Linked DNA regions of Homo sapiens: all the other regions are linked to region 3. Evidence: fine-mapped expression QTL. A gene starts in region 3. Each other region holds a variant in brackets. All regions are shown on one strand. Distances are from middle to middle.

What was found. PIP is the estimated chance that this variant, and not a neighbour inherited with it, causes the effect. A credible set is the group of variants that fine-mapping cannot tell apart.
Region 1: its variant is the best candidate, but not a certain one, in a credible set for the expression of KBTBD11 in atrial appendage (GTEx, PIP 0.86).
Region 2: its variant is the best candidate, but not a certain one, in a credible set for the expression of KBTBD11 in esophagus mucosa (GTEx, PIP 0.68).
Region 4: its variant is the best candidate, but not a certain one, in a credible set for the expression of KBTBD11 in left ventricle (GTEx, PIP 0.90).
Region 5: its variant is the best candidate, but not a certain one, in a credible set for the expression of KBTBD11 in tibial nerve (GTEx, PIP 0.64).

The regions. Positions count from the first base shown.
Region 1 is chr8:2,024,531-2,030,551 of GRCh38, forward strand. No RefSeq gene overlaps it. Among named protein-coding and RNA genes, the nearest start is that of MYOM2, 18 kb to the right of the region's middle. The variant A/T (reference allele first, on the strand shown) is at 2,862.
Region 2 is chr8:1,944,281-1,950,301 of GRCh38, forward strand. ARHGEF10 (Rho guanine nucleotide exchange factor 10) reads left to right here. Exons shown (of 29, transcript NM_014629.4): 27 at 1,201-1,375. Among named protein-coding and RNA genes, the nearest start is that of KBTBD11-OT1, 24 kb to the right of the region's middle. RefSeq lists a silencer at 2,148-2,299 and an enhancer at 5,390-5,890. The variant C/T (reference allele first, on the strand shown) is at 3,462.
Region 3 is chr8:1,971,157-1,977,177 of GRCh38, forward strand. KBTBD11 (kelch repeat and BTB domain containing 11) reads left to right here and starts at 2,521. Exons shown (of 2, transcript NM_014867.3): 1 at 2,521-2,779. It overlaps KBTBD11-AS1 (KBTBD11 antisense RNA 1), which reads right to left and starts at 2,189. Exons shown (of 3, transcript NR_136275.1): 1 at 1,992-2,189; 2 at 1,384-1,507; 3 at 23-1,201. KBTBD11-OT1 (KBTBD11 overlapping transcript 1) reads left to right here and starts at 241. Exons shown (of 3, transcript NR_126346.1): 1 at 241-362; 2 at 769-881; 3 at 4,743-5,288.
Region 4 is chr8:2,635,213-2,641,233 of GRCh38, forward strand. All of the region lies in intron 2 of LINC03021 (long intergenic non-protein coding RNA 3021), which reads right to left. Among named protein-coding and RNA genes, the nearest start is that of LINC03021, 90 kb to the right of the region's middle. The variant A/G (reference allele first, on the strand shown) is at 3,681.
Region 5 is chr8:1,926,405-1,932,425 of GRCh38, forward strand. ARHGEF10 (Rho guanine nucleotide exchange factor 10) reads left to right here. Exons shown (of 29, transcript NM_014629.4): 23 at 1-59; 24 at 2,023-2,246; 25 at 2,882-3,039. Among named protein-coding and RNA genes, the nearest start is that of KBTBD11-OT1, 42 kb to the right of the region's middle. The variant G/GT (reference allele first, on the strand shown) is at 2,674.

The DNA.
Region 1 (6,021 bases), 53 kb after region 3:
ATGTACATTCAAGTCTGATGAGTTAGTAGTCACTATAGACGGGATGTGGTGGCCCACACCTGCAATCCCAGCACGTTGGGAGGCTGAGACAGGTGGATTCCTAGAGGCCAGGAGTTCGAGACCAGTCTGGCCAACATGGCGAAACCCGGTCTTTACTAAAAGTACAAAATTAGCTGGGTATGGTGGGGCATGCCTGTAATCCCAGCTACTTGGGAAGCAGAGGCAGGAGAATCGCTTGAACCCGGGAGATGGAGGTTGCAGTGAGCTGTGATTGCACCACTGCACTCCAGCCTGGGCGACAGAGTGAAACGGTCTCAAAAAAAAAAAAAAAAAAAAAGTCAACATAACGTCTGAGCCTAGTGGATTCCACCGACCAACAGGAGCTTTGAGCCTTTTGGAAAACCTCAAATTATATTTTTATACGTATTAGCATAGTGAAAACTGCAGTCTTTCCTCACATTTTCAAATGTTTTGGAAGCATCTGCTCTACACATTTCTGTTTAGACTTTCCAATGTAAGTTCATCTATGACATTATGACTTCATCGGTTTAAAACCCTATTTTGCGAACAGCCTTGCTTTTGTGAGGTGGATGGGGGGGTTCCTATGGCTTCATACTGCGCGCTCTGTGAGGGTGGAGGCATGGCACTGAGCCGAGCCAACACACACTCGTGTGATTTGAAACTTTGCTTCATTGCATAGCAAACTTTCCGTGTCAAGCTGCAGGGTTACTGCAGGGCTTTAGAGCCATGTTTGAAACCTGTCCACAGATCTCAAAGCAGACTGGCAGAAGGAAAGCCGTTTATCAGACAGGCCAGAGGCATCCCACAGCGGAGTCACTCTGTAGCCAGTTTAGGAATGTCACTTTCCAAGTGACTAGTCAGTGGGCTGGGGGGCTCGTCAGGGACTGTAACTTGCACGGGCACTCCTACCACACACTCCCGTCCCTCCGTAAGTATCTGCTTTGCCTGAGGCAAACACGCTGCTATTTTTTTGTTTGTTTGTTTTAGAGTCTCGCTCTGTTGCCAGGCTAGAATGCAGTGGTACAATCTCAGCTCACTGCAACCTCCGCCTCCCGGGTTCAAGTGATTCTCCTGCCTCAGCCTCCTGAATAGCTGGAACTACAGGCATGTGCTACCACGCCTGGCTAATTTTTGTATTTTTAGTGGAGACGGGGTTTTGCCATGTTGGCCAGGCTGGCCTCAAACTCCTGACCTCAAGTGATCCACCCGGCTTGGCCTCCCAAAGTGTTGGGATTACAGACGTGAGCCACCATGGCTGGCCCAAGCTGCTATTTTAATTAAACTTTTTTGCACATAAAATGGAAAAAAAAAGTCACTCTGTAACTCGGGTGATCTAGACCAGGGGTTTGCAAACTTTTTGAGAAGAACCACATAGTAAATATTTTAGGTTCTGTGGGCCTATCAGTGTTTGTCAAATAGTCTTGTTTTTATGTGGTTTTGTTTTTACAACCCTTTAAAAAACATCAAAGCCATTCTGACACGAGGGCTGCATGCAGCCGGGCAGCTTCTGCCGGAGGCTGTGGCTTCCTGGCTCCTTCCCTAGAGCTGTCCCTCACTTCGCCTGCATGCCCAGAAACACATTTTCTTATGTTTCCAAAATAAACATGTCCTGTGAGTGAGGTAGATTGCCATCGATGTGGGCCATTGTGAGTGTCTGATTAGGGTCTCATGAAAGTCTTAAACTTTCGCCCAACTTTCTTCTGAACTTTCCATGAATTTTGTGAATGTACCTTTATGTAGAGTTGGGATCATCAGTGGCCAACAGCCCTCTTCAGCATTTGCTGTTCTCGTATTTCACAGGGATGCATCACGTGCTCTATAGCATTATTATGATTTATCTCTGGCAGATAAACATTTGGGACCAAGAAGCAAAACTTCTAGCAATGGCCTATGGGGTAGACTAAAAGCCACCAAAAGCCCTCTGCATGCGTCCAGCCACAGTGCAGCCTTCTTAGGGGCCGTAGTCACAGCTGGGCATGGTGGAGACACAGGGGACGGAGCAGGCGGCACTGAAGACTCTTCCCTAAGTTGGAACACACAGGACTTGAGTACGTGCTCAACACTCGGTGTTGTACATTCTGGAAACACGACCTCACGCAGCAATCGACCTCCCACCACGTCTGCTGACAGCACTGTGCTGGAGTAGACTGTCGGGGGTCAAAAGAAACACAGGGCTTACTCCCTGCTCCGGGGGCTGGGGGTCAGAAACACAGATGTGGGTGCAAGAGCACTCACCTGTAATAGTTAAATAGCAATTTAAGGCTGTAGGTCACAAGACTCAAACAAGCTTTGCTGTGAGTGTTACACGAGTCAGCGCGGCTGTGGTAGCGAAGCACCCAGACCGGGCGGCTTCAACAGCAGGCATTTATCGCTCACAGTTCTGGAGGCTGCAAGTCCCAGATCCAGATTCTGGCTGACTCGGTGCCTGAGGAGGGCTCTCTTCCCAGCTTGCAGACGGCCACCTTCTGTTGTGTCCTCTCCCTCCTGCAAGGACACCATCCTACCACACAAGGGCTCTATCCTCAGGGCCTCCTTTAGCCTAAATTACCCCTTTGTAGGGCCCATCTCCTGACACAGCCACACTGGAGTTAGGGCTTCACCATGACCTGGGGGCGGGGGTAGAATTCACTTCCCAGCAGACATTCCTGCAAGAAGGTGGCAAGGGGCTCACACTTCTGAGGCTGAGATCCTTTGCTGGGACTCCAGGCTTGCTCATATACCACACATGACCCTGAAAATCTACTTATTTATTTATGAGATATGGTCTCACTCTGTTGCCCAGGCTAGAATGCAGTGGGGCGATCTTGGCTCACCGCAGCCTTGACTTCCTCCTGGGTTCA[A/T]GTGATTCTCCCACCTCAGCCTCCCAGGTAGCTGGGACCACAGGTGTGCACCACCACCCCTGGCTAATTTTTGTATTTTTTGTACAGACAGCGTCTCAGCATGTTGCCCAGGCTAGTCTCGAACCCCTGAGCTCAAGCGATTGGCCCGCCTCAGTCTCCCAAAGTGCTGGAAGTACAGGTGTGAACCACCGTGCCCAGCCTCTCAAAGCCTCCATCGCTTCATGTGTAAAATCACAATAATAATAGAATCTCCATTACAGAGTCATGGAAACGAAAATAAAATAACACAGGCACTAGGGTTAGAAATGCCTGTCAATTAGCAAGGGACCAATACCTGTGGATCATAGTTCAAAAGGGCCTAAGTGGTATTCAAATTCCCAGTAGCTGTTGTTAAAAAACACACATCTATATAGTGAATGTCAAAAATAAACCTTATATAGTTCAGAAATGTTTAAGAAAGAAAAAAACTGAATTTGAGAAATTAATAAGGAAAACAGAAAAGGAGTCTGAGAAGGTGCTACTATCTCCTCACCCTGTTTTCAAATGTTGGCTGGAATAGTTTTATAAGGAGATCCACTCCTCACCTACACTTGGTTACCGAGTGGTACCATTTACATTCAGGAGGCTGGAAAAAAGAACTTGATTTTTCCTTTTTGTTTACCCAGTTTTTAGTATAAGAAGTTGGTTTCCCATCCCTCTCAGAAGGTAACCCATTCAATGAACTCGTGCTTTTATCCACATCTGATTGATTCCTCGCAATTCTTATCCACATCTGGTTGATTCTTTGCAATTTTATCCACATCTGGTTGATTCCTTGCAATTGTATCCTTTATTAGAATTGAATTTGTCCCGTTTTCAATTCCACCTGTAGAGTTAGTTTATTTCTCATTCTCTCCATATGGGACTGTTTATGGAATGTAACCTCAATGTTTCTGTTGCTCATTTGTATAAAAGTGCTTGTAAGATTAAGAATTTAACTTTCCTGAACCTCTAGGAGGAGGGTGGGGACATGACGCTCTTATAATTTCACCGACTGTTCTCTACTCTTGTTTTTGGTCCATGTTTTAAAAGATGATGTCTCACTCGCTGAGGTTTCCTGGCCTGCTCCCTTCCCCCATGTGGATCTGGTCACTGTCGATTTCCTGGCTCTGCTAATCCTGTCTTGCTCAGGCTTAATCCCACTCCCAGGAGTTGAACTTTGGCTTACGGTTCTGCCTTAGAAAGGACCCCCCCAGGTTCAGTTCCCGGGCTGAGCCACTGGCTGGGCACAGGGAGACTTGCGGCATTTGAAATGAGGCTCCTCAGAATCAACATGCGCTGTGACTGTAAAATACACACCACGTTCATAGGTTTAGTGTGACGAAAGTAAGATTTTATTAGTAATTTTATGTGTGATGTAGTTGAAATGGTAATCTTTTGGATATATTGGGTCAAACAAAATAAATCATTAAAATTAAGTTGTAGGAATAAATTTTCCTATTCGATAAGGTAGCTTTTCCAGGTTATATTTACATTGACCTCTGCAGGCATCTGGTGTGGTGGGGAAGCATCAGCCTGGGACTCCCATAAGCGGCTCAGGGTTTGGGGTTCTCCTGGTGATGCTGGGGGCTGCATGGAGATTTGAGCTTTGCACCCAGCTGCATCCTCGCCCTCAGGGAACGCCTCTTTGGGGTCCCTGGGGAGCTCACTGACTGGATTCCTCCCCTTCTTTCAGCCAGGTTTCATTTCTGACTCCCAAGTCAGGCTGTCACTTGAAAATATTTTTTGCGACTCACAGAGACTGTCAAGAAGAAGATTGTTGTCATATTCATTTTGTGGGATTTTATTATTTCCTTCTTTTTCAAGCTGATAGTCTTCAGTTCTTGTGTGTGTATGTGTGTGGTGTATTTGTGTGTGTTGTGTATTCATGTATGTGTGCATGCATGTTTCTGTTGTTTATTCATGTGTGCTTGCATGCATGTTTGTGTGTGTTGTATATTCATGTGTGCATGCATGCATGTTTGTGTGTGTGTTGTGTATTTGTCTGTGCACGCATGCAAGTTTGTGTGTATAGTGTATTTGTGTGTCCATGCATGCATGTGTATGCATGTTGTGTATTTGTGAGTGCATGCATTCAAGTTTGTGTGTTGTGTATTTGTGTGTGCATGCATGCATGTTCATGTGGCATATTCATGTGTACATGCATGCATGTTTGTGTGTGCTGTGTATTTGTGCATGCATGCGTGTGTGTTGTGTATTCGTGTGTGTGCATGCATGTTTGTGTGTTTTGTGTTTGTGTGTGCATGCATGGATATTTGTGTGCTGTGTATTCATGTATGCATGCATGCATGTTTGTGTGTGTTGTGTATTCACGTGTGCGTGCATGCATGTTTGTGTGTTGTGTATTCGTGTGTGCATGCTGCATGTTTGTGTGTGTTGTGTATTCACGTGTGCGTGCATGCATGTGTGTGTGTGTTGTGTATTCGTGTGTGTGTGCATGCATGTTTGTGTGAATGTCAGGATTCTCCAGAAAAACAGGACCAACAGGATGTAAAACACAAAACCCAACATAAAAGGAGATTTATCTTAAGGAATAGCTCATGTAATTATGGAGGTGCTGGGTGGGCTGGAGACCCAGGGAAGAGTTGCCATTGAGTCTTCAAGCCGGCCCCTGGCAGAATCCTGGGAGATCAGGCTTTTTGTCTGAAGGCCTTCAGCTGAGTGTGTGAGGCCATCCACACTGTGGAGGGCAATTTGCTTGACCCAAAGCCCATGGATGAAAATGCTAATCACACCTAAAAATGCCTTCATGACAATGTCAAGAATAATGATAATCAAAGATTTCGGTACAGTGGCCTAGCCAAGCTGACACATAAAAATTAACCATCACGATGTGCAGATATCTATAATATATTCTGTGGAGGTAGATAGTCTGTAGATAGATATCTCTGTCTTTATCTGTGTCTTTTAATATTTTTATTGAGATAAAATATATTTACATAATTTATCATCTTTACCATTTTAAGTGTACAGTTCAGTGGTAATAAATACATTTATAGTGCTCTCTGTTTTCATCCACCCCTTTTCAGGTTTTCAAAGCTTATTTTCATCGTAAGCATTGCTGTAAATAACTAGCTTGCCATTACCTATACATATGTTGTTGGTTGGATACCATTACTAT
Region 2 (6,021 bases), 27 kb before region 3:
GTGCCCAGCCTGAGGACACAGTCCTCTCCTCAGCTCTCAGGCCCTGCAGCGCCCCTGTGTAGGCTGGAGTCCTCTGGCCCCTGTCCCTGATGGAATCTCAACTGAAATAAGAGGCGATGCCATGGGAGAAGGGATCTCCCATCCACTGAAGTCGCATCCCTGAATTCCTGCCCGCCGGGTTCACTGGGCTCTGGGCGCGGCGTAGTGCCGCAGGATGGGGTTTGGTGCCACGGGGCATGTGTGTGGAGTCAGCAGTCTCCACCATGGGGGCTGTCGTCTTTTCCCTTATTCTCAGATTGTGGGACAACTCGTAGGGCCAAGATGTCAGTCTGGTTATTTCCTGTGGGTTTTTATGAGTTTCATCACTTTACTTTAGATAACTGTGCAGGATCGTGAGTTTCTTTAATTTCAAGAGCTGTGAGGCTGCTGGTTCCTGGGGCACGCAGTGTCTCTAAGCTTCATCCCAGCCCTCACCCTCTGTCACCCCCTCCAATCCCTGATGGGCAAGGCGGGGGCAGTCCTCCTGGGACTGATCCCAGAGAGCCTGAACTCCAGGCAGCCCCTGAGGCCATGTTGGGGGGTCGCTGTGTTAGCAGCTCCTGCTGGCTGTGGGGTGACGAGGGCCCAGGCCCAGGCACCCGTGGGACCCCTCAGAGCAGGCCGCTGGGATGCACTTTCGGAGCTGCGGGGCTGCAGCTGAGCCTGGAAGCTCCAGAAGGACCAAGTTGCTTGGAGAAGCAGAAGGTGCCTTTCCAGGACAGCAGAGCTAAGAGGAGGCACAGACTCAGAACCAGGGTCAGGCTGCAGGCAGGCAGTGGGGCCCCATGCCATAGCTTGGAGACATCGAGGAAGGTTCCAGCAGGTTCTGATGGGCCTGGGGGGATGGATCCTGTGCCTCCCCTCGCCAGCCTGCCCATGTCTCCTTTAGGACACAAGCTCAGTGGCCCCTCGGCAGGCGCACCATGCCTGTGTCTTTGGAATGGCCATTTTCTGGGCTCACAAAGGAGCCAGGATGATTGGAAAATGGCAGGCAGTTGGGTTGCTGGTGTTTGGTTGCTGGAGACGCCTGTGATTTGGAGCAAAGCCTGCTACTGTGTTGCAGCCACTGAATGGCGCTCCAGCTGGACGCCACGTGGACCCAACAGGCCCCACTCAGACTCACTCCACGGGGCTAGCAGACTTGACCTCTCGATTTCACAGGGTCAGCTGGAGGCCCACCAGGAGGAAGGCATGGTGATCTCCCACATGGCCGTGTCCGGCGTCGGGATCTGGATTGCCTTCACCTCAGGGTCCACGCTCCGCCTTTTTCACACGGAAACTCTCAAGCACCTGCAGGACATCAACATCGCCACCCCTGTTCACAACATGCTGCCAGGTAAGGGGACGGGACGGGGCCCAGGGATGGGACAGCAACCGGGGACGGACGTGGGGGGTGCGGAGCGCTGTCAGCCCACCTTAGCGCTTCCCAGTGCAGGACACTGTTCACAACATGCTGCCAGGTAATGGGGTGGGACAAGGCCCAGGGACAGACGTGGGAGTACGGAGCATGGTCAGCCCACTTTAGCGCTTCCCGGTGCAGGGCACAGGTCCTGAAGGAGCCGCGTGCTGGGAGGAGCCGCGTGCTGGGAGGAGCCGCGTGGCAGTGCCATCTCTGTAGGTCAGAGTGGGTGGGAGACGATTTCTCATCATCGGTGCAACAAGGCCCTGGGGAAGCCAGGACCTGAGGCTGAAGAACACAGAACAGGAGGCCTCCCTTTGGCTGGGAGGGCTGTTGGGGAGAGGCCAACAGAGGCCTATGTTTGTGAATGCCCTGTTGCTGGTGGGTGTCACTGAAGTTTCTGGGCAGGGGAGAAGGCCATTACACATTGAGTTTTGGGAGGATCATCCTACAACAGGATGGAGGAAAGAAATGAGGAGGGGGCCCAACCGGCTTCTTTCACGGGTAGCCGGAGGCCGCTGTGGGGTCCGTGGAAGGGCTGTTTTGCTTCTTTGCCTGCTGGTGGGTATTGGAAGACATTTGCAGTTTTAAGGGGAAGGCATGAAGTAAGGGCTCTGCCTCCGAGCCCTTCGGCTGCTGTGACACACGCCACAGACGGGCTGGCTTACAAGCCAGAGAGGCTGCCCCTCCGCGTTCTGGAGGCAGCATGCCGGGGAGCACGGTGCCTGCAGGGCCGGTTTCTGGGAGGATCTGCTTCCTGCTTTGCAGTTGGTGCCTTCTGGCTGGGGCCTCATGTGGTGAAGAAAGAGCCCTGGGGTCTCCTCCGCTTCCTATAAGGGTGCTAATCCCATCATGGGGACCCTATCCTCATGAACTCATCTAACCCTAATCACGTCCCCAAAGCCCCGCCTCCTCGCACCATCCCACTGCGGGCAGGGCTTCAACATCGAAATCTGGGGAGACACAAACATTCAGTCCATGACGGGCCATTTATGATACGTTGAAAAAAACCACAATGATTAGGGGTCTGGTTCTAGAACGGGTGTGAGGCCGTCCTTTGACAAGGGGAGGATGAGGAGGCCGAGGAGGTGTTGAGGATGTTCCTCGGGGCCTCCGTGTCCCCGCCGCACTCCCACTGGAGATGGGAGGGTGAATATATTCGGTGCACGGTGGGTCCATGATAGCCGTTCTTTTCTCAGGGGCTAACTGTACAAGTCATTGTTAAAATACTACAGGAGATTTCTCTTAGTGAGAAAAGGAGGTTTATGTAACATGCAAGTTTATATTTAGAGAACCAAAATGGTTAAGTCCCTGTGGCTCAGAAAGCAGACGCTCTGCTGTGGACCTTGTGTTTTCTTTGGAGCACTCACTGCTAGAGCAAATGTTTGCTGCAGGAATAGGCTGTCCTTGTTGGGACAAAACCAAGTCACATCCGTAATTGCCAAAGCACGCTCTCACGCGGCAGTGAGTGTCCATGTGTTCAAAGTTCTGTACACAAGGGGAGGTGAGGAGGGTGTTATGAGAAAAACCTCTCCACTCGACCTCCCGTGGGCTCCAGCACCCGAGCCTCCAAATCCTGCCCCAGCTGCCCTGCAGCGCAGACCTCCCTCCGGGGCGAAGCAGCCCACGGTTACCCTGGTTTCAGAGTTCCGAGAGCAGCCACGGAAATGCAGCGGCCCTGCAGGATCCTTGGTGTTTATCCCTCTCCGGGTGGGATCAGAAAGAAACTCCTAATCAAGGGAAGGCTCTGGCAAGTGTGAGTGGAGTTTGTATTTTGAATTTGATTTCTTAATAAAATAACCCTTGCACACGATTTAATAAAACCCAACAGCACTCACGCCCAGGCTATGAAAAGCAAAGCAGGATAGGAAAGCCTGCGCTCTGGGGACTCACAGCCCCGCCCCCATCCCAGCACCCCACCCACTGTCAGCACCCAACCCTGCCCCCATCCTCACACCCCACCCCGCATTCAGCACCCACCCTCTCATCCCAGCATCCCACCCACTGTCAGCACCCGCCCCGG[C/T]CCCCCGCACTGTCCCCATACCCCACCCCGCTGTCAGCTGCCTCTCCCGCCCGCCTCCCTACTGCTGCTGCTCGAAAGCCACTCCTGTATGGCAGGTTCTTGATGCTTTGTTTTAGATACTGTCTTTGACCTCTCCTGTAGAAGAGAAAGATGGAATTATCCTGCTTCCCTCCAAGCATAGAGCACCCAACACAGTCCTGCACCCACCCAGAAACAGAATGCAGACCCCTTGCCGGCTGCTCAGGTCGCAGGTTCTGGCTAAATCGCAGCTGCCTGTGTTGCGTGTTTTGGATGATGAAGTTGTCTGTGGCTGGGCGCTGAGCCTTCCTTGGGACTTTTCACCCTTCAGCTCATAGTTTCCAGGCGGCCGATGATGGATCCATCCCAAGCCCACCACAAGCCTCTCACTTGGCAGCAGATGCATGGGGCTCTGCAGAGCCACCATCCCCTGGCGCCCACTCTCCCGGGCCCCTCCAACATCCTGGGCTGGCTCTCCATGGCCACAGTGCGTGCTCTCAGCCCCCTGCTCCGGGGGCCCCTGAATCGTGGGTCTTTACTTATTCCTACACGACATAGTCAGGTCTGCATTTTAGACCCGCATGAAAGCAAACACATGAGTCTGTCCAGATGGAGTGCCGTGCTTCTCGTTGGCAGGTTTCTCCGGCATTTCGGTACTAAGTTGGAAATAGCTCCAGCTTCACTGATTTCTGGGGTACACTGACTGCTTTACCCACATTCAGTTCTCTGCTCCCAGGCTGTGGTCTGCTGCCACCGTGGCCTTGTCAGCAGGAGAAAGGTACACGGGTTAGAGGCAACCTCGGTGACACCAGAAGTTCAGTTTTGTTTGTGATGCTTCTGACAGTGATTCTCTGTAAGATCCTCAGTGCGGCATAGACTGAAATGGTTCTGATTTTCATTGCATTTTGTGACTCAGAGGGAATGAGCAGGCCAGAGAGTCCTTTCCTCCAGAGAGTCCTTTCATCTCATCTCCTCTGTCTAGTCGTCTTTGCCTTTCAGCTAATATTTCATATATTTCATAGAAATAAGCATTATTGCATTTCATGCTGTATTTAGACATTCCGGTGGGGGCATGCTCATACCGTGCTGAAGTGCGCGGATGCTGAGGTCGCCGGGCCGTCACTGCTCCTGGGTTCTTCTCCTCCTTATCGTCCAAGATGGTTCCTGGAGGCCCACACATGTCCTCTGTGCTCTGTTCGCACACACACAAAACCTTCATTCTAGAGTTGTATTCATGACGATGCTCAAATGGGTTTTCATGTGTGTGTGTGTGTGTGTGTGTGGCAACAAGACATAAAATTATCTTTTTGTGCTATTGCTGGAATATAAAAGTCAGGTAGCTTCTGCAAATGAAGACTTGCCAAGCCGAAACAACAAAATTTGAAAAAAACAAACTGTATTATAACTCATGCCTTTTGTGTAAGTTCACACAACGTGATGAAACCTCCTTCCTTCCTCAGGGTCTCAGCACGCTGGCCCCTGGGGAATCCGTGAATCTGTAGCTAAGGCCCTGGCTTTTCTCCTTCTATTTGGAATTCACTTCTGAAAACCATTTAGCTCACGTTCTTTCACATAAGCTACATCAGATTCAACACAGACTAACAGTTGATGAAGGTCTGTGATTAACATACACATTCGTTAGAGCGGTCGTTACCTTTCTAAGTTATAAAGGAGTAGAGTTTACAGCGAGTGAGTTCACGGCGCCTCAGCTTTTAGGTTGTGAGCAGTTGCAGTAGGTTACATCACCAGGCAGATGTTTCCTGCTCTGTCCCGCATGTTCAAAGGAGGATATTTTTGATGGGAAAGTGCTGAGACACATGGTAAATTGCGCCTTTCTGAGTCTCCACCGAGCGAATACAGAGCCTCCAGGAACTATGTGACCAAATAAAATGGCCAAAATTTCCATTAGAAAAAAAAAGACAAAAAACGTGTAACTTTTCTGAAGACCATGGACTACACCGTAAGGGAATTCAGTAAATGAAACCGGACTCAAGATGGTGAGTTAACGAACGAGACTGAGGACTTGGGAGCCACAGCCTTTCTCGGTGGCCGGTGTGGCCCTGGCCTGTCCTTTGTTTTATGTTCCAGGCTGGGAAGAGCAGAGGGCGAATCCCCCTGGTAGCATTCCCTCCCATACTTGGGGGACGTATTGCTTCTTCTACTCACTGTTCTGTCTCTGAGGTTATTTGAATGAACCTGGATGGTGTTGTTTACACCCCCAGCTTCTCCCAGCCTCCAGGGCGGGAGATGCGTCTGCCTCTGTGGCTGCCTGCAGAAGGCCCTGGTGACTCCCCACGGAGTCACCATCCAGCAGCCGCTCAAGTGCAGTCAGTCCCACTTCACACGTGTAACCCATTTACCAACCTCACTGTGCAGCTGCATCACCGTTCACCACCTCAGCTGCCCCTGCCTCCCACCTCGCCAGCGGACCTCACGTGGGCTCCAACTCCCGGGACCCAGCCCCATCTGGGACACGCCCTGCTGTCCTGTTCTAGGTCACTGTTGGTGCTTCCGGACGGGCACGGGACGCCTGGATAGCGGC
Region 3 (6,021 bases):
TTTCAAAGCCAACACATATATTCTAATTATTTCTTCATGCCAAGAAGCTGGAAGTACTTTATAGCAATTGGCTCCATTCCTGACAGTTATTGGGATTTAACAGCTTTATTGGCTGGGGGAGGAACACATGAACTCCTAAGGGCTAATACAAGCATTTGGGAAATTATCTGTTGTCTGGCGTCAGCACTGGAACAGGGCAGCAGAGCTGGAGAGTAAGAAGCAGAGCTGGAGAGGAAGAAGTGTTTGCTAAGTCACCGCGCAGGAGGAGACAGAATCAGAGGTGACGAATGTAAGTCCACCCATTGGCTTAAGATCCAGTATCCTGAGTGAGTTGCACAGATCCTCTCCTTCAGTCCTCTCAGGTAGGTGCAGTGGTGTCTCCCTGGAGCACAGAGAGGCCAAGTATCTGGCTCCAAATCACAAGACTTGCAGAGGGTAAGGCTGGTGTCTAAGGTCCCATCAGTTGAACTCCAAAGCAGGCTGTCTAGAAATTGGGTTCAGAGACCTCCCAGCCTGGAACCCAGTTTGATGGAGTCCCGCATTCAGGGGCCAGTAAACCACTGTACCCTGGACAACTCCATAAGCTTCGGTTATATTTTTAGGGCGGTTTTGCATGTTGAAATATTTGCATGCTTCGAGTCTACCATGCATGATCAGGCTGTCCCTGACCAGGGGAAAATTTACATAGTAAAATAGTATTACCCTTGAAATAGATTTAAGATAGGTCCTCCTTTTTCTTGACAGTATTACAACCCAGTTCAATTTCAGGAACTCTAGAGGTCCCTGCAGTTATGAAGAACTAATTAAAGGCATGAAATGTTCCTCTGCAAGTTTCATTGACCATATTGGGCCTACAGTCCATTTCCAAATAAATATCTAAGGTAAGAAAAATATGGGACTCCCCACAGACTACTTATCTACCAGATGGTGTGGGGTTTGGATGGATGTTTTCAGTTACTTCAGCAATTTTTTCATTAATTCAGTATTTATTGAGAACCTAATGTATGCCAAGCTTGTAAAATGCAGTGGGGGGTATGACCTATTCCCAGGTCTCTGGACTCTGGCAGAATGGTAGAGAAGATGCTGTCGGGCTTGCATGTTCAGAACACCGTGTCTTAGGTGACCTCCCGGGCCTTTGGAGGCCCAACCCCAGGGTGGCGGGATAGCCAGGTGAGGCTTTGTTTGGCCTGTTCACGTTTCTCTGGAAAAGAATGGGGGTAGTTAGGCCAGGCGCGGTGGCTCATGCCTGTAATCCCAGCACTTTGGGAGGCCAAGACAGGTGGATCACTTGAGGTCAGGAGATCGAGACCAGCCTGGCCAATGTACAGTGAAACCCTGTCTCTACTAAAAATACAAAATTTAGCTGGGTGTGGTGGTGCATGCCTGTAGTCACAGCTACTTGGGAGGCTGAGGCAGGAGAATTGCTTGAACCCAGGACGCAGAGATCGCAGTGAGCCGAGATTGCACCACTGCATTCCAGCCTGGGCGACAGAGTGAGACTCCATCTCTAAAAAAAAACAAAAGAGAAAAAGAAGTATTATTCTGCAGCCGAAAGGAAGTAGAGATGCACTAAGAAGATCACAGTAGAGTTTGGAACATTTTTGGAGTAAACTGAACAAAATAAAAACGGAGCAGCATGGGAATTATTTTAGCTTCCACCAAAAGGGTCTGTTTCTGCTATAGTTAACGGAAGTTTTCAATTTTCAAAAAATCCCAGTAGCTCGCTGAGTTTCAGCCTCCTGTAATTCAAGTACTGACAGCAGGTACTACTCTTCTTGGCAACAGAGTGAAAAAGGTTTTAAAGATGTTCCCGGGGCGTTAGCTTTGGTGCTGGAGTTGTAACGGCTCATTATGTGTATACAGCATGGAACTGGCAAAGACTGTCACAAGCAAAAAGAACACAAAAAGAGAAAGTAAAGGCTCTGGCTCTCGGTACTTATGGAAATCTCATCGTCATTAATTTGCACAAAGCCATTAAAAATAGCATTTACCAGCAGGGGTCCAGCGTTAATTAGAACCCAGCCTGGGAGCAGCTGGAACTCTCGGCGCTCCTGGCTCAGTCCTCGCCGCCCTGAACCCGTCTGCACCGCAGGGCCCGAGTGGGAGGCAGAGGCCACATTTCTGGATATGAGCAAAAGCTCCGACATTTCGTCCACTCTCGTGTTGTGAACTTTAAAAAATTCTGGAATCTGTTGAGAATTTGGCAATAAGTTTTTAACCACTAAATATGTCAACAACGCATCGCCTCTACTTTTACCAAAAAATAGGCGCACGAAACTCCGCTGTTTGCGCCCGCGGACACCTGTCCCCGCCTCCTCGCAGGAAGCGGCCCCCGCGCGTGGGCGCGGGCTCGGGCTCGGGCTCGAGTGGCGACGTGGGCCGCGGTCCTGGAGGGGGAGAAGCGCCCGGCGGGCAGGCGCGGGGCAGGGAAGCCCCGGGGAACCCACAGCCCCTCCGCAGACCCAGCCAGGGGGCGCGCGCCCGAAAACGCCCCGTGTGCACGCGCCCGCCCCCCTCCCCGCGCCCCGCGCGCGCCCCTCGCAGCCTGGAGCCGGAGCGCTGGCTCCGCGCGGCCTGGAGAGGCGGAGAGGCCTGTCCACCGCCCCCTCTGCCGCCCACGCCCCGCTGCGGGTCGGAGGAGCAGCTCCCGCTCGCAGGTGCTCGGAGAGGCCGGGCCGCGGCTCCCACAGGTGCCGGGAAGCGGCCGCGCGCATGCGCCGGAGCCCACCCGCCTGGCTGCGCGTCCCGGGCCCGGCGGCTGAAGAGGAGCCGCGGCGAGGTAGGGCGGACCCCGGGGAGGCAGCGGCGGGGCCTGGCGGGCGGAGCGGGAAGCAGCCCGAGGCGCGGGTCGGAGGGGGCGGCGGGTGGGAGGTGGTCGGCGAGAGCGGCAGTAGGCGGGAGGGGAGAAAAGGGGAGGCCGGCAGGGGAGAGGCGGGGAGGGGAGGCCGGCAGGGGAGGGAGGGGAGCGGAGCGGAGGGGAGGGGAGGGGGGACCGGGAGAGGAGGGGGCAGCGCTGCCCGCGGCGGGGTGGGCGGCGGTGGGTGGTCTCCGCTCCGCCTCCGGGAGGCCGCGTGGGGGGCGTGGGGGCCTCCTCGCGGGGTCTCCACAGGCCCTCCCCCGGGACGCGGCAACCCCGGCCGGAAGACAATGAGCCGCCCGCGCCGCGCCCGCAGTCACCGCCCCCGCCGAGGGTCCCGCCGCCCCAGCCGGCACGGAAGCAGGAGCAGAAGCCGAAGCCAAGCGCGCGGGGCCAGGGCGGGGGCTCCTCCCGGGGTTGCTCCGCTTGGCTCTCGGCGGTCGCGGGGATCGGCTGTCCGGAGCGAACGGGGGTCTCTCCTGGACTCGGGGCCCTGGGGAGGGGAGCGCGGCCCTTGGTCCTCCGCCGCTGCGCCCGGGGTGCGGGGGTGTCCTGGCTGCTGACCCCCGCGAGCCCCGAGCACCGCGACCCACCCGCCCCACCGCGCCGCGGCTCCCGAGTCCTGCCGGGCGCCCCTTGCAGCCCCCGCCCCATGTGCTGGGGAGACCCCCGGGCGGTCTGGGCGGGATTCCGCAGGGGTCCCTCCTCTCAGGCGGGGCTCATTCTGGAGCATGAAAAGAGGGTGAACCAAAGTCCCTCCACCTCTTTAGAGTCCTACAAAACCACGTTTCCCCCTCCACCCACTCCAGTGTCTATTCTAAGGAAAAGAAAAGGAACAAATCAGTGCAGCGAGCTTTATTCTACTCAGCCCACGAAAGGCGCCGCCGTCAGATTTTAAAGTTCCAGCCATCCCCTCAGGCCCTGAGTGAGAAGTTCGCCCGATTCCCCGCGGTTCCCGCCTCCATTTCCCACTAAGGAGCAGTTACTCAGGCTCCAATTAGGACCCCTTAATGGATGTCAATGGAACCCTTCAGCCTTTTATCCTGAGCTAATAGTGTGCTATTATTAGAATAATCCTCCCCATTCCTGACATCACGGAAGGGAGCGTTCCATTGCCTTCAGATTTGCTCCAGCAACAACCTCGTGTGTGCAGATTTATGGTAACTGGCATTGCAATGCTCCCATCAGGGCATAACTAAGTAAAAATTGTAATGAGGTAAAGCCTTTGAACTTTCCATGTCAGTTGCACAGGCATTGCTGGCCATAGCATTGGACAGCACATAATAAAATCAGTTAAAAGATGTTGCTTACATTATAGTGATGTGTAGCACAGCCACGTTCGGATCAATTACAGACCGCCAAGTTGACGGTGGTCCTGTAAGATTATAAAACTGTTTTCCCTGTGTCTTTTTCATGCTTAGAAATGTGTAGATACACAAACACCATTGTGTTACAATTGCCTGCGGTATTGTGCACGCTGCACAGGTGTGCAGTCTGGAGCAGGAGTCTGTGCAGTGGAGCACAGGTGTGTAGCAGGCTGCACCGCCTAGGTGTGTAGGTGCCCTGTGTGATGTTTGCACAGTGATGAAGTTATCTAACTATCATTTCTCAGAACCTGTCTGCATCTGAACCATTCGTGACTGTATTTAAGCCAGCATTGGGCTTGGGAGGAGGGGAGAAAGCTTAAATGTTGTGGCTCTGAGACTAAAGAAATTCCCAGGGAGCAGGACTCTGTGTTGACTGATGTCTGGGCCTAACTTGAACCTCAGAGCACCTTGCTCTGGGTGGATGGAAGAATCCGGAAAGGTGGTTTGGAGCTTATCGCATCATTTGTAAACTCCAATACAAACCCGCTTCAATGGGGTTTCCATATGTTCCGGTACAGGTAGCAACCTTGGCAGTGGGAGCCCAGCAGGTCCCGTCTTTGTCCCTGTGCTGATACAGAGAGACTCTCCGTGCTGTGGACGCCTCCATCTGGGCACATGTTTCAGTTGTTTTCTAAATACCAAGAGCACAGATTGCTCAGTAATAATAGCTCTCCTGCAAATCTGGAATCACTTAGGCAGCTGCAGTGCCTCTAAGCCTCCTTGCATCCAAGGCTGTGATCAAGGAGGACTGGTGTCTGAGTGGGCTTGAGAAGGGCCCGGAGAACAGCGGGTTTCCTGATCACAAATCAGCCTGTCATTCAGCATGTGTTCCCTTGGTGACTCAGGGCGATATCTGCCCTTCTCCGGAGGTCAAGGGCTCATCGTGTCAATTGTGGTCTTGAGTTTGTTTTTTTTTTCCTCTTGAAATCATTGTAATTAAGCTAAAAGTATAGTGTTGGTATCCAGCACATGTTTGCAAAGTATTTAACAATGAGCAAAAACTTTAAGAATAAATTAAAGCATCTAGTTTACTTTTTGCCAACAGCCAGGTTCCTGCTAGAAATGATTTTGAAATAAATGTTGTCTTGGAAATAGAAACCGTTGCATGTCTTATGTGCATTTTGTTTGAAGGATTAGCATGAATTTCCTTCTCTTCTGAATATTTGTGGAGTTCCCCTGCTCCCCCACCCCCCACCCTGCTGTGGGTCAGGCTCAGTCCTAGGTGCTGGGAATACAGTTGTAAGTAAAGTCAGCCTAGTTCTCTGCTATCTGCAGCTGAGACGTTAATACAGTGAAAGGCATTCAGCATATAATTACGTTAATTCTTAGGTAATAACACACGGAGATGAGTGCGTTGAAGGAGAGGAATACATTCCCTTGAATGCACGTAACAGAGGAATGTTAGGCCGAGAACTAAGGGATGAGAGGGGTGGCTCAGGAGCCCAGGAGGGGACAGTTTGCGGGAACATTGTGTGCAAAGGCCCTGTGGTGAGGACTAGAGCACGGAGAGGTCAGTGAGGGGCGCTGGAGCAGGGTGTAGTAAAAGTGTAATGTCAGCCGATTTTATGGCTGAGTTAAATTGATGGAGCTTCACACTTTAGAGCAAGGTCCTCCAACCCATGGGCCACGAGCCACATGTGGCCCAGGACAGCTTTGAATGAGGCCCAACACAGATTTGTAAACTTTCTTAAAACATTATGAGTTTTTTTTTTTTTTAAGCTCATCATCTATCATTAGTGTTAGTCTATTTTATGTGTGACCCAAGACAATTCTTCCAGTGTGGCCCACGGAAGCCAA
Region 4 (6,021 bases), 660 kb after region 3:
CTTGTGCTGTGTAGACGTGCATGACAGCCATGGGTCATTGTTTTCGGACAGACCTAGCAGGCAAATCTTAAACACTACAATTGTGCCTTTACTTACATTTTCATTGGATTGCCGTCCGCTCCATATTTGTAGAATCTCATGACGAGGATGGTAAAATTTTAGTTCCTTCCCATTAATATGTATCCCTCGAAAAGTAGGAAGCTCAGTAGAGGCCTTATCCTAGACCTGCCACTTTAGAATCTCTTCAGGGAAGCCCTGGAGGTTGCATTTAATTAGCAACCACTTGATAACACAGCAAAATTTCGGAATCTGCCTACAGAATCCAACAGAAACTTGTAAACCCGACGTGTGAAAGCCTTGTTGCACTCACTACCCCTTACATCCCTCTCAGTCTTTCCTGTTCTCACACCCTGCAATCCCACCGTATCAAACTGCACGCAGCTGCCAGTACTCACCATGTTTCTATATGGTTATGCCTTTGAGAGTAAATGGAAAATAGCCCCCATTTGAGATGATTGGTTTGATTCTAAGTTGTTCACAGATGGAAATACTGGGTTTCCTACTCATCAATGAGGAATTAAGCTCCAATTCTAAAATGTGATTTAATTTCTTATTCCCATAGAAATATAGGATTTTTGCATTTTATACATAGTGGCTGGAGTTATAAATCCTAACTGATATGTTACTTGTTCTAGGCCAATATAACTAACATGTCTTTGAGAGTAAAAATAAAATGTATAACCTTGACTTTTTCTAACAAAGAAAAGGAGGGTGATTTATAAACCAGAAAGGTCATAGTCAAAGCATAATGTCTTATCTCTAGTCTGATAACAAGTTTTAGTTCAATTCAAATACCCATTTGCTCAAAATTTTACCTAGCCATGTGTAGGTATTATGCAAAGCAAAAGAATGATGAATTTGTATTGAATATTCTGTGTATATCCTAATATTTCTTATGTCAGCTGTAAAATAAATTTTTCTAGTTCTGTAGATTCTGAAGCTATAGTCAGATAGGTGTGGGTATAGACCTCCTGGATCTGTTTCTCTGAAGAATTCTGATTAACGCAATCAGTCTGTAGGTCTGTAGAACAGGCAGACATGTATCTGCAATAGTTAAGTACTGTGCTACTTAGACAAAAAATTTAAAAAAATAAAATTACAAAAGACTTTTAAAACGGAAAAGGTCCCTGACCACATCCCAAGCATCATCAATTAAGGCATTATTAACTATATGTTATAGGGAACCACCTTGTATAAGAGAGAAAGTAGGCAGGGCGCAGTAACTCACGCCTATAATCCCAGCAGTTTGGGAGGCCGAGGCAGGTGGATCACCTGAGGTCAGAAGTTCGAGACCAGCCTGGCCAACATGGTGAAAACCCGTCTCTACTGAAAATACAAAAGATTAGACAGGGATGGTGGCATGCGCCTGTAATCTCAGCTACTTGACAGGCTGAGGCAGGAGAATCGCTTGAACCCGGGATGTGGAGGTTGCAGTGAGATGAGATGGTGTCATTGCACTCCAGCCTGGGCGACAAGAGCGAAACTCAGTCTAAAAAAAAAAAAAAAAAAGAGAGAGAGAGAACTGGAACTTGTGTCCTCTGCCTCTCAGTATAAATCTCCTCTTTCTAAATTGAGATGTTCTTTGTTTCTGGGAATAATGGTTTTTCCAAAAGGAACAAAAATGCGAGCCTGGTAGAAACTAACCATGATGATTCTCTTTTGGTTGCAATAATATGTGGGACTTTCACTTTCCATATAATAGAACTCTATGATAATTGCATTTTATAAGAACCATGTATAAAGCTGGAAAGGGAACTGAAAAAAGCATGTATTACTTTCATAAACATTTAAAACATAGAGACATCAAATATGAAAATCTGTTGTGATAAGAGAAATTGCCATTATGAAAATCAAACAATTTCTCTCTATTGTTTTAATTATCAAATTGGTTGACTTAGTTCATTTGTGCTGTTATAACAAGACATTTGCAACGGACTAAGTCACTTATAAACAGACATTTCTAGATCACAGTTCTGGAGGCTGGAGGTCCGAGGTCAAGTTTCCAGCAGATTTGGTGTCTGGTGAAGGCCTCGTCTTTGCTTCATAGATGGTGCTTCTCATTTTATCCTCACATGGCAGAAGGGGCAGAAGGAAGGACCAGGCAGCTCTGGGAAGATCATTTTATAAGGTCTTTTAATCCTATTCGGGAGGGTGGCGCCCTCAGGACATAACCACTTTTCCAAAGCTCCCACATCTTAATACTACAGCATGGGGCATTCAGTTTCAACATGAATTTTAGAGGGACACAGACATTCAAACCCTAACCCTGTTTTTTGTTGATAGTTTGTTAAAATTTATTTCTATGTTTTGAAACTGAAGTATCTCATGTAATTGGCAACAGTCCTTGGAAGAGGGTTCAATAGTGAAAGGAGACCTTAGGAATCTGTTTCTTATTCACAGATTCTCCTGGATTGCAGCAGGGAACATTGCAACAGCAGCAGCACACTGTTTTGCAGTGAAAATTGATTTTCCTTGCTAAGTTCCCTTTCAATTAACTTCATTTCTTGTTTCTCACACAGTTAATATATTATTTTTCCCTCTATGCCTAAAAGATCTAAGAGATCTGAGAAACCCCACAGCTAACTCGTCACCACTACAACATGCAGCTTTCTTATATTGACCGCAATTTTAAATTCGACTGGACATACGGAGTCAACTTACTAAAGGCTCCATATAATGTCTTGTTAGCACAATCTCATTGATAAAAATATCACACCTAAAATTTTTTAAAAGTTAAAATATAAAATAACCCATTTCATTTCTAATATTTATTTTTTAGCACTTATAGTCTCAGCCATTAGTAGGCATCAGAAAAGACAGCCCTGTTCCAAGTTTTCCTACCTTCTGATTTTCAACTTCATATCAATAAACAAAATAGTGAAATTCACCTAACTTTACCAATTACCATAGTGTACTGGTCTGTTTCCACGCTGCTGATAAAGACATACACGAGACGGGGCAATTTACAAAACAAAAAGGTTTAATTGAACTTACAGTTCCACATAGCTGGGGAAGGTCTCACAACCATGGTGAAGGGCAAAAGGCACTTCCTACATGGTGGCGGCAAGAGAGAAATGAGGAGGAAGCAAAGGGGGAAACCCCTTATTAACCCATCATACGTCATGAGACTTTTTCACTTTTAGGAGAATAGCACAGGAAAGACCAGCCCGATGATTCAATTACGGACCCCTGTGTCCCTCCCACAACACATGGGAATCCTGGGAGATACAATTCAAGTTGAGATTTGGGTGGGGACACAGACAAACCATATCAAATAGTGATGAGCAATTAATACATGTGGATTAAAAGTCTTTCTTCTCTAATTGATACTAAAGTTAAATGTTATTATGTGTTCTTTCTGGACTTTTCTATGAAAATGATAATGCATTTGTATATGACAATATACTTGCTTTTTAGTTTGAGTTTCTGTTTTCACACTAGGGATTAGATTAAGTAAATATACATTGATGAGCAAATACGTTTGATGTATAAAGATACTCTAAAATAAAATTAAAAGTATTGTCTTTGTCAATTATAAATATAAAACACAAAAGAAAAAATGTAGTTGTATTGCTTATAACCCAATAATTAGTTTTGGGTATAGAAGTCAACAGAAGTAC[A/G]GTATGATAACTACAGGTATTTTGAAGGGGAGGACAGTTTAAGAGGGTAAAGAGGGCTGCACATTCTTTGTTACGTCTACAAACAGAAATGAAATCAAATTCTTCTTCCTTTGAATCTGGTCTTGGTCTTGCTGTGGGTTGCTTGACCAATTGAAGTGACACTCTGGGTCCTTCAAGCCTAATCCGTAAGAGGCCTTGCAGCTTCTGCCTGGCCTCCTGGAATCCTCTGTGGTGGGCTGTTCCTGCCTCCCAGCTATTCTTACCAAGGCACCAGACTTACAGCCATGTGGACCCTTCAGCCCAGCCAACCTGTCATTGGAGTAGGGCTGGGAGACTCCTCTCACCCCCAGTGCAAAGTGGAACACCCAGTGCCCAGGATGATGTCATGAAGCAATGAGTTTAACCACTGCACTCAGCCAGTGCTGGGCTGAGTAAGGGTCCCCCAAAGACACCGATATCCAACTCCCTGGACCCGAGACTGTGTTAATGATATAGGAGTTCAAAAGAAATTATTTAGGCAGGTAGTGAGGGTAAGGAAATCCTCGGTAAGGTTTTCCTGTTAATGAAAGGCAGCCTCCAAATCATTTCTTTTCTAACAAAAGCAGCCTGTAAAATCAAGTTGTAGACATAAATAAGCAAACTGGAAGCTTGCAGGGGTGAATGCCGGCAGCTATGCCAGTGGGCAAGGGACTACCTGGGGGCTGGGCATGTTGAACATGGCAACTCCGTCTTCTTTGTCATGGAAGCAATGGGAAATCAATACACACTGTGACGGAAGAAGTTGCAACTCTTTGGAAATCTAAAACACGTAAAATGATAAAGGCTATAAAACATCCATTAATTGTGTTTTTACTGTTTGTTGATACACTCTGGACTGAATTGTTTCTCTTTAAAATACATATATCGAAATTTTCATCCCCAGTCTGACTGGTTTTGGAGATCGGGCTTTAGGAGGATAATGAAGGTCAAGGGGGGTAATAAGAGTGGAGTCCTAATCCTACAGGCTTGGTGGCCTTCTAAGAAGAGAGACAGACATTTTTCTCCCTCTTCTAGTGCATACACTGAGAAAAGGCCATGTGAGGCCACAGCAAGAAGGCAGCCACCTGCAAGCCGCGGAAGGTGGTCTCACCAGGAACCAAATCAGATGGAAACTTGGTCTTGGACCATAAACATCTGTTGTTGAAGCCTCCCCCTCTGTGGTACTTAGTCACAGCAACTCGAGTAGGCAAATGCATGAAAATGGTTGCAGTTTTACTGACTGAAGCAGTTAATATTTGTCAGCAGCTTCCAGAGAGGTAGGATAACCTGGTAATTATGAGGGAGGCTCTGGACTGCCTGAGTTTGAGTCCAGGAATCCCTATTTACTGTAAGTGACTATGGGCAAGAAACTGAATGTCTGTATTTCAGTTTCTTCATCTGTAAAATGGGATTCATAACAGTGTGGGGATTTGTGATGACCACAAATATAACACATGGAAGCCTTAGGTTACTAGCTGGCATGCACTAACAGATTCCTATTATCACATTTCAGTTCACTGAAGCAATAAAATGTTTGTATTTTTAAGTGAAAATAGGATGGCATGGTGGTAAAAACAAAGGACTAAGATACAGAAAACTTAAATTCAAATTGTTTTGAACTTGAGTAAATTACAATCTCTGTAAATTTTGTCCTTTTCCACCCTTATAAATGAGGGCATTGAAATTTAAATATCACGAGATCATTGAGAGGATACAATGAAATGATGAGATCTGTGACTGCATCTAGAACTAAGAAGCACTACAGAAGTATAATTAATAGGTGTAATTTAATGAATGTGATTATTCGTATTATTGTTACATCTCAGGAAACAGAAAATACCATGCTCTTACATGTTTTCACATTTACTGTGTCATTTGGGAAACTTGACCCTTAAAAGCTCCCATCCCTGGGACTTTTATATAAAGTTTTCTTCTCCTTTCTGCCAAGCTCGCTTGGGTGGCGGTCACCCTGCCATTATCTCCCTGAAGCAGAAGGGGTTGAGGAGGAGCCACAGGGCTGTCCCTGGCAGTCTCACCAAAGCCCTGAGCTGTGCAGATAAACCAGTGTCTGCAGGTAGAGGGATGGAGAGAAAGCTTCCCTGCTGTCTACTCTGAAGGTTCTCTGCAAAGAACTAAGGGTAGACAGTTCAAAAAGAGGCAAGCAATAACAAACTTATTAACGTGTACAGGGCAAAGGAATTCCACAAATATGACGCTCAAAGAAGGTCTCGAATGTAGCTTCGATGTGCCACATGTGGGAAAACTTGGAGGCCTGTGCTGCGGACTGGTCTGCAGTGTCTCAGAGGGCAGTGTTCACACTCCC
Region 5 (6,021 bases), 45 kb before region 3:
CTTACCTAAATAATGAAAGCCAGCCAGATTCATTTTCCACGGCACATGGTTTCCTGTGGGTAAGATGTGTTTATTTGGTTTTGGTACAAGTTCACAGAGAATCAACGTTCATGGTCGGTGTGATGAGAGACTGAGATGTGAATTGCTCAGTAGAGAGTTGGCGGTGGCGTATCCCAGAGTGTACTTAGAAACATGAAAACTTCTTTGAAAGGGAGCTGATCACTTTTGGAAAAGATTTACAGTTCTTAGGAATGCAAATATTTGTTTCTTTTCCTTTTCATCTAAAACATTTACCAGATAAAGTTGAGTCCAGAGACAACTAACTAATAAGAGAATAATTTTAATATGTTTTTCCATTTTGGTGTCAACATTGCATGGATTTTTTTTCTTGTTCCAAGACTGGCTTTTTCCAGTGGAAACTTAGCAGTTAAAATTAATTTGTTCCAAATGAAATATTGCATCTGAAATTAGGCTGGAATTGCAGTAGACGTTCCTGGTTCTTGCAAACCAGAGGACATTCTTGAAGCTGTGTGGTCCCAGGCTCTCCCCTCTCTGGTTTCCTGTGTTCCCTCCCTGCAGCCTCAGACTCGCCCTCCAGGGCTCCACTGTGCTTTTCCAAACTCTCATCCTTTCCTCCCAGGCGTCCTGTGCAGCACGCCACTGCCTCTCACTTCTCACATCCACAGCTCCTGCTTGGTCAGTGTTCCTAGTTGAGTGTCAGAAATTGAACAACCCAATTAGCTGGTATTTCATTTGTACCAACCTATGAATGGAGGAGTAGCCTTAATTCCCTTGGGGGCTTCCACTTCTAAGAGAACTGTTTTCCGTCCAGGTAGGCAGACCTGTCATGGCTGAAGCTTCATCACCTGGCCTGGTCATAGCCCCCAGGCCCTGTAGGCAGGACAGGGGCTTGGCAGATTGGCATCCTTCCCACAAAAGCATGAAAGTAGGATGTCTGTATGTAGCGACAACAAATACAAGAATAAGGAGAGTTTAACAACATTCTCAAAGTTGGTGGAAAAGAAAAAGAATCAATGAAAACATCACCCTAAACCAGCTAGTGCTTTCTGTTTACAGGGATCAGACCCCTTCCCACTTAAAAAAAAAAAGACAAATAAATTTAAGTTTAAATTGGGAAACTAACTGTGCTATGTGTTCTCGTTGTAGAGATTCAAACACACAGGAAGTTCATGTACACTGTTGCAGCAATGCTACTTTAGAAATTCCACGGCAGGCGTGGTGGCTCATGCCTGTAATCCCAGCACTTTGGGAGGCCGAGGCGGGTGGATCACAAGGTCAGGAGTTTGAGACCAGCCTGGCCAAACATAGTGAAACCCCGTCTGTACTTTCACATAGTGAAACCCCATCTCTACTAAGAATGCAAAAATTAGCCGGATGTGGTGGCACGAGCCTATAGTCCCAGTTTCTCAGGAGGCTGAGGTGGCAGAATCGCTTGAACCCAGGAGGCAGAGGTTGCAGTGAGCCAAGATCATGCCATTGCACTCCAGCCTGGGTGACAGAGTGAGACTGTCTCCAAAAAAAAGAAAAAAAAAGAAATTCCACAGCATACCACATGTTGACTTCCAATGAGCTACTTGGGATGCATTCTTACTGATGTTTTTCCTATTTGAAAGGTTTATTTTCTTAGCCTAGGTCATTGAATATTAGTGTTAAGTTATTAAAATTGATAATAATCTGCTTCTTAGGATTTTAAATTGAGGATAGATGGGCCCTTACCTTCATATTGTGATGAGTACGTGATTTTTAAAGTATAGAAATGTGACTTTGTAGAAATGAAAGTTACGCTTTTGCTTTAAAATTTTTTGAAAACTGAATTAAATGTGTTGAAAAGAAAAAGGGGCTCTGTGAGCAATTGTTTAAGAATTTTTTTTTATTTTTTTAAGTGTGTTGATTCTCACATGAAAATCGAAGCTTGTCGTGGCCTTTAAGGGTCAGGTTCCAGCGTATTATGGAAGCCGCCACATGGTCGTTTTCTTCTTTCCTCCTAATTCTCTGATTCAGATCGGAAGTTGCACCCATCAAATGGGTCAGATTGCCATCGTCTCGTTTCAAAATTCCACTCCCAAAGTCATTGAGTGCTTCAACGTGGAATCTCGCATCCTGTGCATGCTGTACGTTCCCGTCGAGGAGAAGCGCAGAGAGCCTGGGGCACCCCCGGACCCCGAGACCCCGGCCGTGAGAGCTTCTGATGTCCCCACGATCTGTGTAGGGACGGAGGAGGGAAGGTAGGGCATGCTCACTGCGTTACAGAGAATTAGCAAGCTCTGCCCATGGAGGGCGTGGTGGGGAGCCTGTCCTGGAAAGAGTCCTTGACTTTGACTCAGGAGTAGCCCGTGCAGGAATTAGGGGATACCAGGGGAAATTTTTAGGGTCATTGCACTTTGAAATAACTAGTGAATTGGGCCCATGGAAATTATTCTAGGAAACTCTTAAAGAGAAGTGGTATTTCTTTAAAGGGGACAGTTTGGCTGTTTGCCACTGAAATGTCTCATTTATATTAATGGTTTTGAAAAGGACATTCCCCCCTTATATTTTGGAATAAAACAGCCATATTCTATGTCATGATCATACTGAATTGCTGACACCATTTAAAGGAGAGTTAAAATGATTTTCCTGATGTGAAGTTCCAAGATACACAGTAGGAAGAACTAA[G/GT]TTTTTTCATATATCCCAGAATTTCCCTTTTAAAAATAAAGAAATCAAGGTGGTTGCAAATTTTTTAAAAGTACTGGCAAGTGTCCCTAGGAATGGAGAAGGAAGGGCAAGAGGGAAGAGTTGAAATGTTTGTGTTTATGTTAACAGGCACCCTCGTTCTTGTTACAACGAGCAAATATATTTATTAGCTTGTATTTTTCTCTTAAAGCATTTCCATTTATAAAAGCAGTCAAGGCTCCAAGAAAGTGAGACTTCAGCACTTTTTCACTCCTGAGAAGTCCACAGTCATGAGCCTGGCTTGCACGTCTCAGAGCCTGTACGCTGGCCTGGTCAACGGGGCAGTCGCCAGCTACGCCAGAGCCCCAGGTGAGGCGGGTCTCACGGCCTCCTGGCCGGTCCTTGGGGTTCACTCAGGGGACTGTGCATCCGGTTTAGCCTCCCCACCTCCCCACCGGCCTCCTGCCTCCCGCCCCTGTGCCTCCGCCCCTGCGCTCGTCACCCTTGCCCAAGGCCCGGGTGCCTTGCTTCTTCCCCAAAAGGTGTTTGTTGAATATACAGACATCTTTCAGAAGTCAGTCTGCCCGTCTCCTCCCACCCTCCCACTTCTCTCGGCCTGCCTGTTTCTCCCCCTCGGATGGGGGCACCGGGCCATGCAGAGCCTCCTTCAGCATGTCCTGCGCTGACCAGCTGAGCAGCCTGCCCGCCCGGCGGGGCCTCCTGTACCTGGGCCAGCCCTCTTTGCCCCGGTGCTGTGCCCTCGGTCCCGTGCCCTCGGTCCCTGCTGTTCTCTTGGCCACAGGGCTAAGGACTCCATTGTGTTCTGCTGGGTGCCTTAGACGAGGCCCTCCCTGGCCCATCCCGCCTGGTCCCCGCAGCCGCTGGGGGTGGGCAGCTGCTGTGTGTCTGTTCTCTCTCCAGCCCCTGCCGCGTTGGTGGCAGCTGTGCTTTGCAGGCTCTTCCTGTGGATCTGGCCGCCGCTGCTTGTGGGAGCTCTGGGTACGGGGCTTTCCTTCCAGCTTCCTTGGTGCTGGCTGAGGCTGCTCTCCTGGCCCCTCACTCAGCTCTGAGCGCAGGGGTGCCGAGCCCCAGCTGGATCCCAGCCAGTCTCGGTGCTGCCATCCTGGAGTGGAACACGCAGGGCTTCCCTCACCGAAAGTTGCCCTGCACCACCCTCCCCACGGCCGGGAGCGACGCCTTGGCGGGTCCTGTTATCTTTCCCAGGCCATCCACCACTTGTTCTTGTACCCCGAGACCATGTCCCAGCTCACTCCCCCATCATCACCACCCTGGTCCACACCGCCCAGCTCCCGCCTGGATGGCAGCGTAGCCTCGCCTTCATTCTTCCGCTTCTACTGATTCATTCTCCAAATATTTGTTATTGAGCTTTTTAAACTGTAAATAAGGTTTTTACCCTCCCCGCCCCCCCGCTGAAAATTGTGTGGTGAGTCCCCAGTGTACTTAGAATAGAATTCCAGTCCTCCAGTCCTTGTTCCTTGCTCACAAGGCATTCTGCCCTCCAACCACCCCCGTTCTCTCTGCTCTGAGTGCTGCTATTGGAGTTCCTCCCTCCTTAGAAATCTGCGCCAGCCCCTCCCAGAGCCTGGGGTGTTATTTGCCCCCGGACTTTGACACCTCCTCCTTGGGGAGGCTCTCTCGACCTGCTCCACGGGGACGGCCCCTCCTTCTCCCGTGTGGTTCCGGCCTGGCCTGTGCGCACCTGCGCCAAGAAGGCCTGGACTTCTTTCTCACTCCGGTAGGTGGAGTAAGCACAGGAGCCGCTCCTGTCTCGTCCCTCAGCCATCTGGAGTGTGACCCTGCTGATCCCTGGCCGATCCCTGGCTCCTTGGCGGGCCTCTGGTTGCCTCCCTCTCATCCGGTGGGTGCCCCGGCCTGGATTCCGGTCTGCACCCCCTCTTCACTTGGCCTCATGATTTCAGTTCTCCATGGACGGTTTTGTGTCTTCGGGGTTGGGCTCTCCCATTCCAGTCCTGCTTTGTCATTCACCTGTTGTCATAACCTCTGCCAGCCTCCTTGGCCGGCTTTCCCGTCCTGTCTCTGCTCCACGGTAGGCGGAGGCCCCTCCGCATGTGCGCCGAGAGCCGCCTCCCTGCTGCCTGTGTTCCTACCACTCTGCACTCAACTCTTTCATGAAGCTTCGTGGAGGAATGTGTGTTGATAGGACTTTTTCATATAATCTGGATTTTTTTCTGTTTTTCTAATTTCTATTAAATGCAATAGAAATAACATTTCTATTACGTAAAATGTATTTTATGCTTATGTCCCCCTTTTTTCCCCTGGGTTTACTAGCGAGCATCTCTCCAGCCTCTTACTTGGCTGCATTGCTGTCCTGTCCACTGTGGAGCCCCGTGCAGGGCTGTGTTTTCGCCTTGTCAGACGCGTTGCATGATCTGTAACTGAGATCTGCTGAACGTGTCTCTTCGCATCTTTCTCACCAAGAGCTGTCCGGCGTACCGTGTGGGAGCGTGCGAGGCAGCCTGCGCAGAAGCGCATAGCCTGCCACTTCGTTCTTGGTGGTGAGGGACGTGGCTGGCTGGAGGCCTCGGCCCGGGCAGAGGGAGGGGGAGGCTGCTTCCTAGCCCCTCACTGTTGCCAGAGCTCTGAGCTTTCAAGGGACTTAAAAATGTGAAATTCTGTGGGCAATTTCCAGATTTTTAAGTGTTAGTTCAAAACGTCATTAGCGTGTGCCTGGTTCCGGCTGCGATTTGGGATCCTGCTGAGGGCTCTGGCCTGGGACACATACACAGGGAGAAGTCATCCCAAGAAAGACAAGCCCACACTGCAGAATGACCCACCCAGGTGCTCAGAGAACAAAGTTCAGTTGTTGGAAGTTAAACCTTAACCGAGGGAAACGTCTGAAGTAGGCCATCGTGTCATTGATCTTTGAGTTCTCGTTTCAAAGGAATGGTGCTATTGGTAGGACACTGCCAAGCCACACCTGACAGCCAGGATCCAAGCACAGTGGGCGGTGCATAGAGAGAGCTCTGACCTAGGATTCACAACCCTGCGTTCTTGTGCCACTCCATGCCCTTCAGAGTGTGTGAATGTCAGAGAAAATTGTAGCTCTGCCCTGAGCCCACATATTTCTGGAGGTTGCCGTGTGCCGTGCTTTAAAGGGCTATGAGTACCAGATGGGAAGGCCCATGCACATGTGTGTATGCACAGGAGTGTGAGGGGTGTGCATTGTGTGAGCAGGTGTGTATGCATGTATGCACATGTGTGTATGCACACGTGATTGTGAGGGCGTATGTGTGTGCAGGCGTGTGTGTGCCTTGAGTGCACATGTGCAGACGTGTGTGTCCCTGTGTGCATGTGACGGCAGGTGCACGT